3 separate regions of the Homo sapiens genome follow, and all the other regions are linked to region 3. Evidence: fine-mapped expression QTL. A gene starts in region 3. Each other region holds a variant in brackets. All regions are shown on one strand. Distances are between the middles of the regions.

Region 1 (2,500 bases), 29 kb before region 3:
AATCTTCCAGTGCTGAGCTTCCCTTGGTCCCAGAGCAACATTCGTCCTTCACTAAAGTAACAGGAAGAGGGGTCTGTGAGTAGCGCCAGCTCTGACTGGTTGGCACTGCCTGGACTGTGGGGCTGGGGCCTGTTGGTAACGTCTGCTGCTGTGCTGGAGCGGGAAGTATGCTGGGTGGGCCTGATGTTGTAATAAACTGGGGGGCGGTTTCAGGGCAGAGAAAGTGCACCCTGGGGAAGGAGGGGAGTGAGTGATACTGTTGGGAGCAGAGCCTGACCACGCCTTTGGCCTGGGAAGTCAACCTGACTCTAACCCCGAACCCAGGCCTGTGGGGAGCTGGTCGGCTGGAGGGGTGAGGAGATGTATGCCCAGGGCTCTTGGGGCCAGCACAGGCACTGGGCAGAGGGTGGTTGGTGGCTACTGAGCCAGGGAATCGGCAAATTCCCTCTCCCTCCAGCGAGATGAGACCGCAGGAGTGTGGCACAGCAGCCTGGACCATCTGCGAGGCCTGGTAGGGAGGCAGGGATGCGGGGCAGCCTGAAGCTGTGAGGATGTAACAGGGAGCCCCAATTGCGGCACCCCCCGCTTTTTTTTTTTTTTTTTTTGAGACAGAGTCTCACTCTGTTGCTCAGGCTGGAGGGCAGCGGCATGATCTTGGCTCACTGCAACCTCCGCCTCCTGGGTTCAAACGATTCTTCTGCCTCAGCCTCCCAAGTAGCTGGGATTACAGGCACGCACCACCACGCCCGGCTGATTTTTGTATTTTTAGTAGAGATGGGGTTTCACCATGTTGACTAGGCTGATCTAGAACTCCTGACCTCAGGTGATCCACCCACCTCGGCCTCCCAAAGCGCTGGGATGACAGGCATGAGCCACCACACCCAGCACAATTGTGCCCTTTCTAAAGGGGCCTCAGCCACCAGGACTGCCTTTCTCTCAAAACAAGACAGACAGAGGCTGGACCTAGGGAAGGACTTCCCCGCCTTCCCTTGGAGGCGGCCTCGGGTCAGAGCTCAGATCTTGGCTCAGAAATCACAGGGGGCCTGTCCACTCAGGGCCCACCCCGCCATGTGTGTTCCCAAGCTTCGCCAGGACACAGGGCCTGGCACTGCCACTGACGAGCTGTGGGGTCCCTTCTCCCTCGTGCGACTCACCGAGGATGGAAGACCCGGCGGGACCTTCCGGACCTTCTTGGGCTGCGTGTCTGTTAGAAGCAAAAGGGGTGAGAACCGGCCACCGGCCATGAGAACAACCCCTGCCCTACACCCTGGAGGAGAGACCCTCACAATTCCCGTTTCATATATTAAAAACCTCGGGTCGGCTGGGTGCGGTGCCTCATGCCTGTAATACCAGGACTTTGGGAGGCCAAGGCAGGCAGATCACGAGGTCAAGAGATCAAGACCATCCTGGCCAACACAGTGAAACCCCGTCTCTACTGAAAATACAAAAAGTAGCCGGGCGTGGTGG[C/T]GGGTGCCTATAATTCCAGCTACTCGGGAGGCCGAGGCAGGAGAATCACTTGAACCCGGGAGGCAGAGGCTGCAGTGAGCCGAGATCGTGTCACTGCACTCCAGCCTGGGGACAGAGAAAGACTCCGTCTCAAAACACAACAGCAGCAGCAGCAACAACAACAAAAAGCCCCGGGTCTATTTATACGGCTCCAAAGATGTCGAAGAACCACGATGGTTTTCTCCCGCGACGCGCAGTTTGGAAAACGAGGAGTTGGTGGATTCTAAGCCAAGGCTCTGCTGAGAAGCCCCTTGGCCCCACCCTCCTTCCAAGATGGCCCCGACTATCCCACGCAGTCAGGCTTCACCACTAGGGGCTGCTGTTTGCAAACTCGCCTACAGGATAAAATCCGTAACCCGGAAACCAGCACTCAGGCGCCTTCCTGATCACTCACGGACGTGCGCACAGTGGGAAAAGTTCGAGTGGCCCAGGCGCATGTGCCCAGCCAAGGCGGAACAGAGGCCTCCTCCCGCATCATGGGGCTCCTGTCCTTGGTCTATTCAGAGCCACGATCTTTTACGTTTTTGTGCTTTTTGTGGGTGATTTCACGCTTATTTTTTTCAGGCAGGGTCTTGCGCTGTTGCTCAGGCTGGAGTACAATGGTGCGATCGCAGCTCATTGCAGCCTCGAACTCCCAGGGTCAAACCATCCTCCTGCCTCAGCCTCCTGAGTAGCTGGGACCACAGGTGTGTGCCACCATACTTAGCTAATTTTTAAAATTTTTCGCAAAGATGGGATCTCCCTATGTTGCCCAGAATGGTTTGCAACTTTTGGCCTCAAGTGATCCTCCTGTCTCGGCCTCCAGAGAAGCTGGGACCCCAGGTGAGTGCCGCCATGCCTGGCGACTGTGCTGCCTGGAATGGGCCCCGGGTAGTTCAAGGCGCCGTCCAGTGCTCCTGAGCCCGAGGCTGTGACGTGCCTCGCGGGGGATGCCCGCGTGTGCAGCAGGGCTCAGTGCAGAGGAGCCACGATGCAGCCCCATGAGGCATCTGAC
Region 2 (2,500 bases), 21 kb before region 3:
TCCCGCAGGAGGCGGAGCATGTGAAGCTCGGGGCATTTCCTGTGTCACCCGCAGGAGGGACCGCACACGGGACACTGTCCCAGTCGCAGCCCCAGGTGCCTGGAGGAGGGCGTCCCAGTCAGCCCCACCCAGCCGCAGACCCCCGGCCAGGGTGCCCTTCCCAAGCGTCGGTTCGTTCCCCTGCAGCACGGGTGAGCCTGCAGCGGGGCTGGAATATACCCAAGACCAGGCACCAACCCCCACCTGGCATTGGGCAGGGCCTGCAGAGCTGGGTCAGTCCTCACCGCCTCCCTCCAAGAAGGTTCTGGGAGGGTCCCTTTCCCACAGTGGGGAAACTGAGGCTCAGAAGAGGATGGCGCTTGCCCAGGTTCCGTGGTGGGGTGGGACCAGACACCAGGCCTGAGTCTTCATTCTTTTTTTTTTTTTAAGATGGAATCTCGCTCCATCACCCAGGCTGGAGGGCAATGGCGTGATCTCGGCTCACTGCAGCCTCCACCTCCTGGGTTCAAGCAATTCTCCTGCCTCAGCCTCCTGAGTAGTTGGCACTATAAGCATCCAACACCATGACCGGCTAATTTTTGTGTTTTTGGTAGAAGCGGGGTTTCACCATGTTGGCCAGGCTGGTCTCAAACTCCTGACCTCAGGTGATCCACCCACCTCGCTCTCCCAAAGTGCTGGTATTACAGGCGTGAGCCACCGAGCCCAACCTGAGTCACGATTCTCTCGGTTAACAGGAGGGCCCCCCAGGGAAAGAGGGCGGGCGGGCGGTCTGCGGAAGGGCATGGGCTCTGACCACCGCACACTCTGGCCGCCCTCCCGAGTCTCCAGAACTCCTACGCCTCCTTCCCAGCGGGCACAGGCCAGCCCGGCTGACCCCTCCCCGGGAAGCAGGAGGAGCCCTGCAGAAATCCCAGGGAGGAAGTGGGGTCTGGAACGGCCTCCCTGCCTCTACGCTCAGGCGGGGAAGCCTAGTTGCAGAGTGCCGTGCCAGGGAGTCCGGGCCACGTCCCCTGCACCTCCCCGCAGCTGCTCCCAGGACGGGCAGAGGCTTCGGCTGTCCACACCCTCTGGGTGAACGCTGGGGACTTGCCTGGCGCTGTGCGTGCACTGACCATGCCAAGGCCCACGTCTGCACATCTGTGCACAGCAGAGGGACCGCACCAGGCCAGGCACTCACCTCCGAGTCCCGGTCCCAGGAATGTGGATGAAGAGAGGCTGCTGTGCGACTCAGTGAAGTGGGTGCCCTCGCTGAAGGTCTAGGGGAGATGGGGTGGGGATGAGAGGTGCTGGGGCTTCACAGGCCCCCCCTCCACCCCGCATTACAGCTGGAGAGGCAG[GA/G]CTCAAACCCATGTCCCCCAGTCCAAACCCCTGGAAGGCTGGCCCCTTCTCTCAGCCTCAGTTTCCCCACACCCCTCGCCCCCAACTCTGGGGACAGGAAACTCAGGGTCTCAGGCCTCACGGGGACTCCTACCCGGCTGGGGTCAAAGGAGGAGCTGCTCTGGTCGCCGCTGCCCCAGGAGCCTGAGCTGGGCCGGTCCTCAAGACCTGCAGGCAGGACAGAGAGAGTTATGGGTCACCCTCACGCCTGCCCAGCTCTAAAAGCTTCGGTTCATCATCTCAGGGGCAAACCTCAGTGGACCCGGGGGGCTTGTGGAACCCTTCCTAACCCAGCCTCACCCAGCCCGACTCATGAGGACACCAGTCAGCAGCTAACACCCAGACACCCTGGGACTCGGAGCACTTACAGGTCCATAAACTTAAATTAACTCTTCCGTCGGCTCTCTGCTGGCCAACTCCTACCCACCCACTAAAGCCCCAGCTTTCATACCCTCCTTGGGCAAAGACCTCACTCTCACGCCGAGCCTCCTCCCCATCAGCCCCAAGTCCCTCCCTCTGGCCCAGCCCTGACTATGTGGACTGGGGTCTCTGTGTCAGATGCAGACTCTTCTGACCCTGTGAGAAAGGCTCATGACAGCATGAGGGTGTGGAAGCTAACCCATGAGCTCTGGGGAGGCCCAGGGTCTCCCTGTCCCCACCTGCCAGTGTGGGAAGTGGGGCCGCCCTTTGCTGAAGCAGCAGCAGAGGCTCACCCATCGGGCAGGAGGCTGGCAGCCCGTGAGGGTGGAGCCGAATCTCATCACCCAGGAACAAGCCCAGTGTGGAGACCAGAAGCCTGCGTGGGGCAGGAGTTCCCGGCGCAGCAAGGGACGGGACGAGGACCTTGGTCCCGGGGCGGGGCGGGCGGGGCCCTTATCTCTCAGAACACTCACAGGCAACGCCCAGGACTCCAGAATCTTCTGCCCTGGGCAGGGAGGGCCTGCTTGGATCCTTCCCCCTTCCATCGGGGGCCACAGAGCACACCCGTGGAGAAGCAGGAGCGGGCCCTGGGCCTCCTCAGCTTGGCCACGGAGTTGCTGCCCTGCCTTGGTTTCCCTCTCTATAAATGATTTACAAACAGGCCCTACTTTTGCAGGGCTGGGGGTGTCCATGTCCAACTCCC
Region 3 (2,833 bases):
AGAAATGCACTCCAGGCCCCTCCAGTCTCGACTTTCCCCAGGGGTCCCCAGGTGGGGACGGGGGCAGCCCGGGAGACACCTCCGAGGCTGGGGGTGGGGAGGAGCCTCCGAGGTCGAGGGAGACCCAACTTCAGAAGCAGAGAAATCCCCTCTTTGTCTGCCAACTGGAGGCCGGGTGTGAAGCGGGCGCCCCAGCGCAGCCCCTCCCCCGCTCAGTTTTTTTCTTTTTTGGAGGGCGTGTGAAACTGACTTTTTTTGAGGACTACGAAACCGCACTTTTTTGTGGGGTAGCTGAAACCGATTTTAAGACAGACTTAGTTGGGGGGGTGGCGAGCTAAAACGGGCATTCTACGGGAGCTGGAAGACTTCTGGGGCGTCCCAAGGACTTTGAGAGACTTGGAGAATGTTTGAAGCCACTTTGCACGGCGCCGAAGGCGGGGGGCGCGCTGGAACGCCTTTTTCCCGGGGGGAGGCGGCCCGGGAAGCCGGACCCCCCTCCCCCCGCAGCCGGTGCAGGCGGTGCGGCCCGGGAGCCTTTGAAGCTCGCAGCGCGGCCGCCGCCTCGCCCCGCATTAACGCGGAGCAGATGTTACCCGCGCGCCCCCCCCCGGCCCGCCCGGCCCCGACCAGCGCCTGCAGCGCGCGGCACCTTCCCCGCGCAGACAAAAGGACGTCCCTCCCGCGCGCTCCCCACCCCAAACTCCGGCGCCCGGGCCGGGCCCCCCTCTACCCGAGAAAGGGGGCGCCCCGGGGTCCCCGTGCGCCCGGGCTGGGGGGGACGGTCCTCGCGCCTAAGTTGCACAGCCCGTCCGGCGCCCCCCGCGCCCCCGCCCGGGGCTGCTTAAAGTTTCCCGAAGTGCCCGGCCCGACGGGGGCGACGCGGGCCTGGCGAGCTCCGGGCTCCTCCACGTCGCCGCCCCCCCGGCGCCGCGCGAAGTTGGAGAACAATGACTCCCGGGCCGCGGGGCGCCCCCCGACACCGCCCCCGCCCCAACTTCCTCCGCGCCCCCCCCCAACAAGCGCGCGCGGGGCGGGCCGGGGTTCCCTGGGCACAAAGCACGGGGGTACCGGGCGCGCCCCCCGCCCCCCGCCGGGCTCACCTGCTGGGCGCGGCCGGGCACGCGGCGCGTGGGGGGGGGCGGCGGCATGAAGCGGGGGGGCCCCCCCCCGGACAAAGGTGCGTCGCGGCCGGGCCCCCGAGGGTCGCGCGTGGGCGGCGGCGGCGGCGCGCGTGGCCCGGGCCCCTCCCACCCCCGCGTGGCCCGTCCCGCGGGGCCCGTGCGCGCGGCCGGCCGGGGCGCCCCTGGGGCAGCGGCGTGCGCGGTGCCCGCGGTGCCCGCCGCCGCGTCGGCTCCGGCCCGCTACGCCCGCAGCCGCCGCCGCTGCCTCATCTTCCTGCGGCGGGAGACATGTTCCGCCCCCCGCCCGCGCCGCCCCGCCCCGCCCCGTGCAGGCCCCGCCCCTGCCCCGCCCCCGAGTGCCCCGCCCGGCGGCCCACGCGGATCCCTCCGCCACCTCCGGGCGGCTCGGGCCCGAACGCCCTAGCTCGGCCTCTCGAGCACCCTCGTGAGGACCCCGAATCCCGTGAGGTCCAGAGCCTGGGAGCGGGGACGCGCAGAGGAGGCGGTCGGGCCACGGCGCGGGGAGAAATCACGGACTATCCCCGTCCGCGGAAGCACACACGAGCTGTGCGCTTAGTCCATGACGCAAGCGAGTAAGGCCCGTGAGATTGAAAGCTAAGGCAGAGCAGTCTGGTCAATCGGAAGCCGCGAAAGTCTGATGGGCGGGGATCCTAGCCATTCGTGGTGAGGCCCCGCCTCCTTTCTTCTCGGCCCCGCCCCTCAGCAGAGGCGGGACTCTGCGAGCGAGAGGCCGCGAGAGGCGGCCGGGGTGGGTCCTGGAGTTTTGTTCTCAGGTTGGCGTGGCCGCCCGCGCGGAGCCTTCTGCTTGGTTATATTTGCGTTCCTCGGGCCGGCCCCGCGTGCTGAGTGGTGCGAGCGGGTATCACGGCCCCGAGGGGGCTACGTCAGACCCATTTTCCCGGCGGGAAAACCGACTCTGGCTCCGGCTCTGGGTCAGAGAGCCCCGCGGGGAGTCTCAGCGGTGCCTTTGCCGACTTGAGTCTCCGTCTCGGCATCTGTGAATTTGGACCTGACTTTGGACAGAACTCAGGCCAGATCTGGCTTCCTGATTCTTAGTAGTCCGTGTCTACATTTTAGTAAAAAGTGACCCCGCCTAGGATCGGGCGCCGTGGCTCCTGCCTGTGATCCCAGCGCTTTGAAGGAGGCCGAGGCGGGAAGATCGCTTGAGGCCAGGAGTTCGAGAACAGCCTGAACAACATAGTGAAACCCCCCCCACCCACACCCGTCTCTAAAAATATTTAAAATAATTTAAAATAATAATTTAAAAAGTTGACCGGACGCGGTGGCCCACGCTTGTATTCCCAGCACTTTGGGAGGCCAAGGCGGGCAGATCACCTGAAGTCAGGAGTTCGAGACCTCTCTGGCCAACACGGTGAAACCCCATCTCTACTAAAAATACAAAAATTAGCCGGGCATGGTGGCGGGCACCTGTAGTCCTAGCTACTCGGGAGGCTGAGGCAGCAGAATCGCTTTCACCCGAAAGGCGGAGGTTGCAATGAGCCGAGAGCACGCCATTGTACTCCAGCCTGGGCAACAAGGACGAAACTCCGTCTCAAAATAAATAAATAAATAAGTAAAATAAAATAAAAATACAAAAATTAGCTGGGCGTGGTGGCATACACCTATAATCTCAGCTACTCGGGAAGCTGAGGCAGGAGAATCGCTTAAACCCAGGAGGCAGAGGTTGCAGT

Evidence for each region. PIP is the estimated chance that this variant, and not a neighbour inherited with it, causes the effect.
Region 1: its variant is the best candidate, but not a certain one, in a credible set for the expression of TCF3 in left ventricle (GTEx, PIP 0.84).
Region 2: its variant is the best candidate, but not a certain one, in a credible set for the expression of TCF3 in whole blood (TOPMed, PIP 0.77).

The regions. Positions count from the first base shown.
Region 1 is chr19:1,622,797-1,625,296 of GRCh38, forward strand. TCF3 (transcription factor 3) reads right to left here. Exons shown (of 19, transcript NM_003200.5): 8 at 1,155-1,204. Among named protein-coding and RNA genes, the nearest start is that of UQCR11, 19 kb to the left of the region's middle. The variant C/T (reference allele first, on the strand shown) is at 1,468.
Region 2 is chr19:1,630,861-1,633,360 of GRCh38, forward strand. It overlaps TCF3 (transcription factor 3), which reads right to left. Exons shown (of 19, transcript NM_003200.5): 4 at 1,472-1,545; 5 at 1,178-1,256. Among named protein-coding and RNA genes, the nearest start is that of TCF3, 21 kb to the right of the region's middle. The variant GA/G (reference allele first, on the strand shown) is at 1,338.
Region 3 is chr19:1,651,200-1,654,032 of GRCh38, forward strand. TCF3 (transcription factor 3) reads right to left here and starts at 1,416. Exons shown (of 19, transcript NM_003200.5): 1 at 1,101-1,416. RefSeq lists silencers at 335-454, 435-657, 465-694, 785-864, 1,395-1,524 and 1 more and enhancers at 1,875-1,924, 2,045-2,154.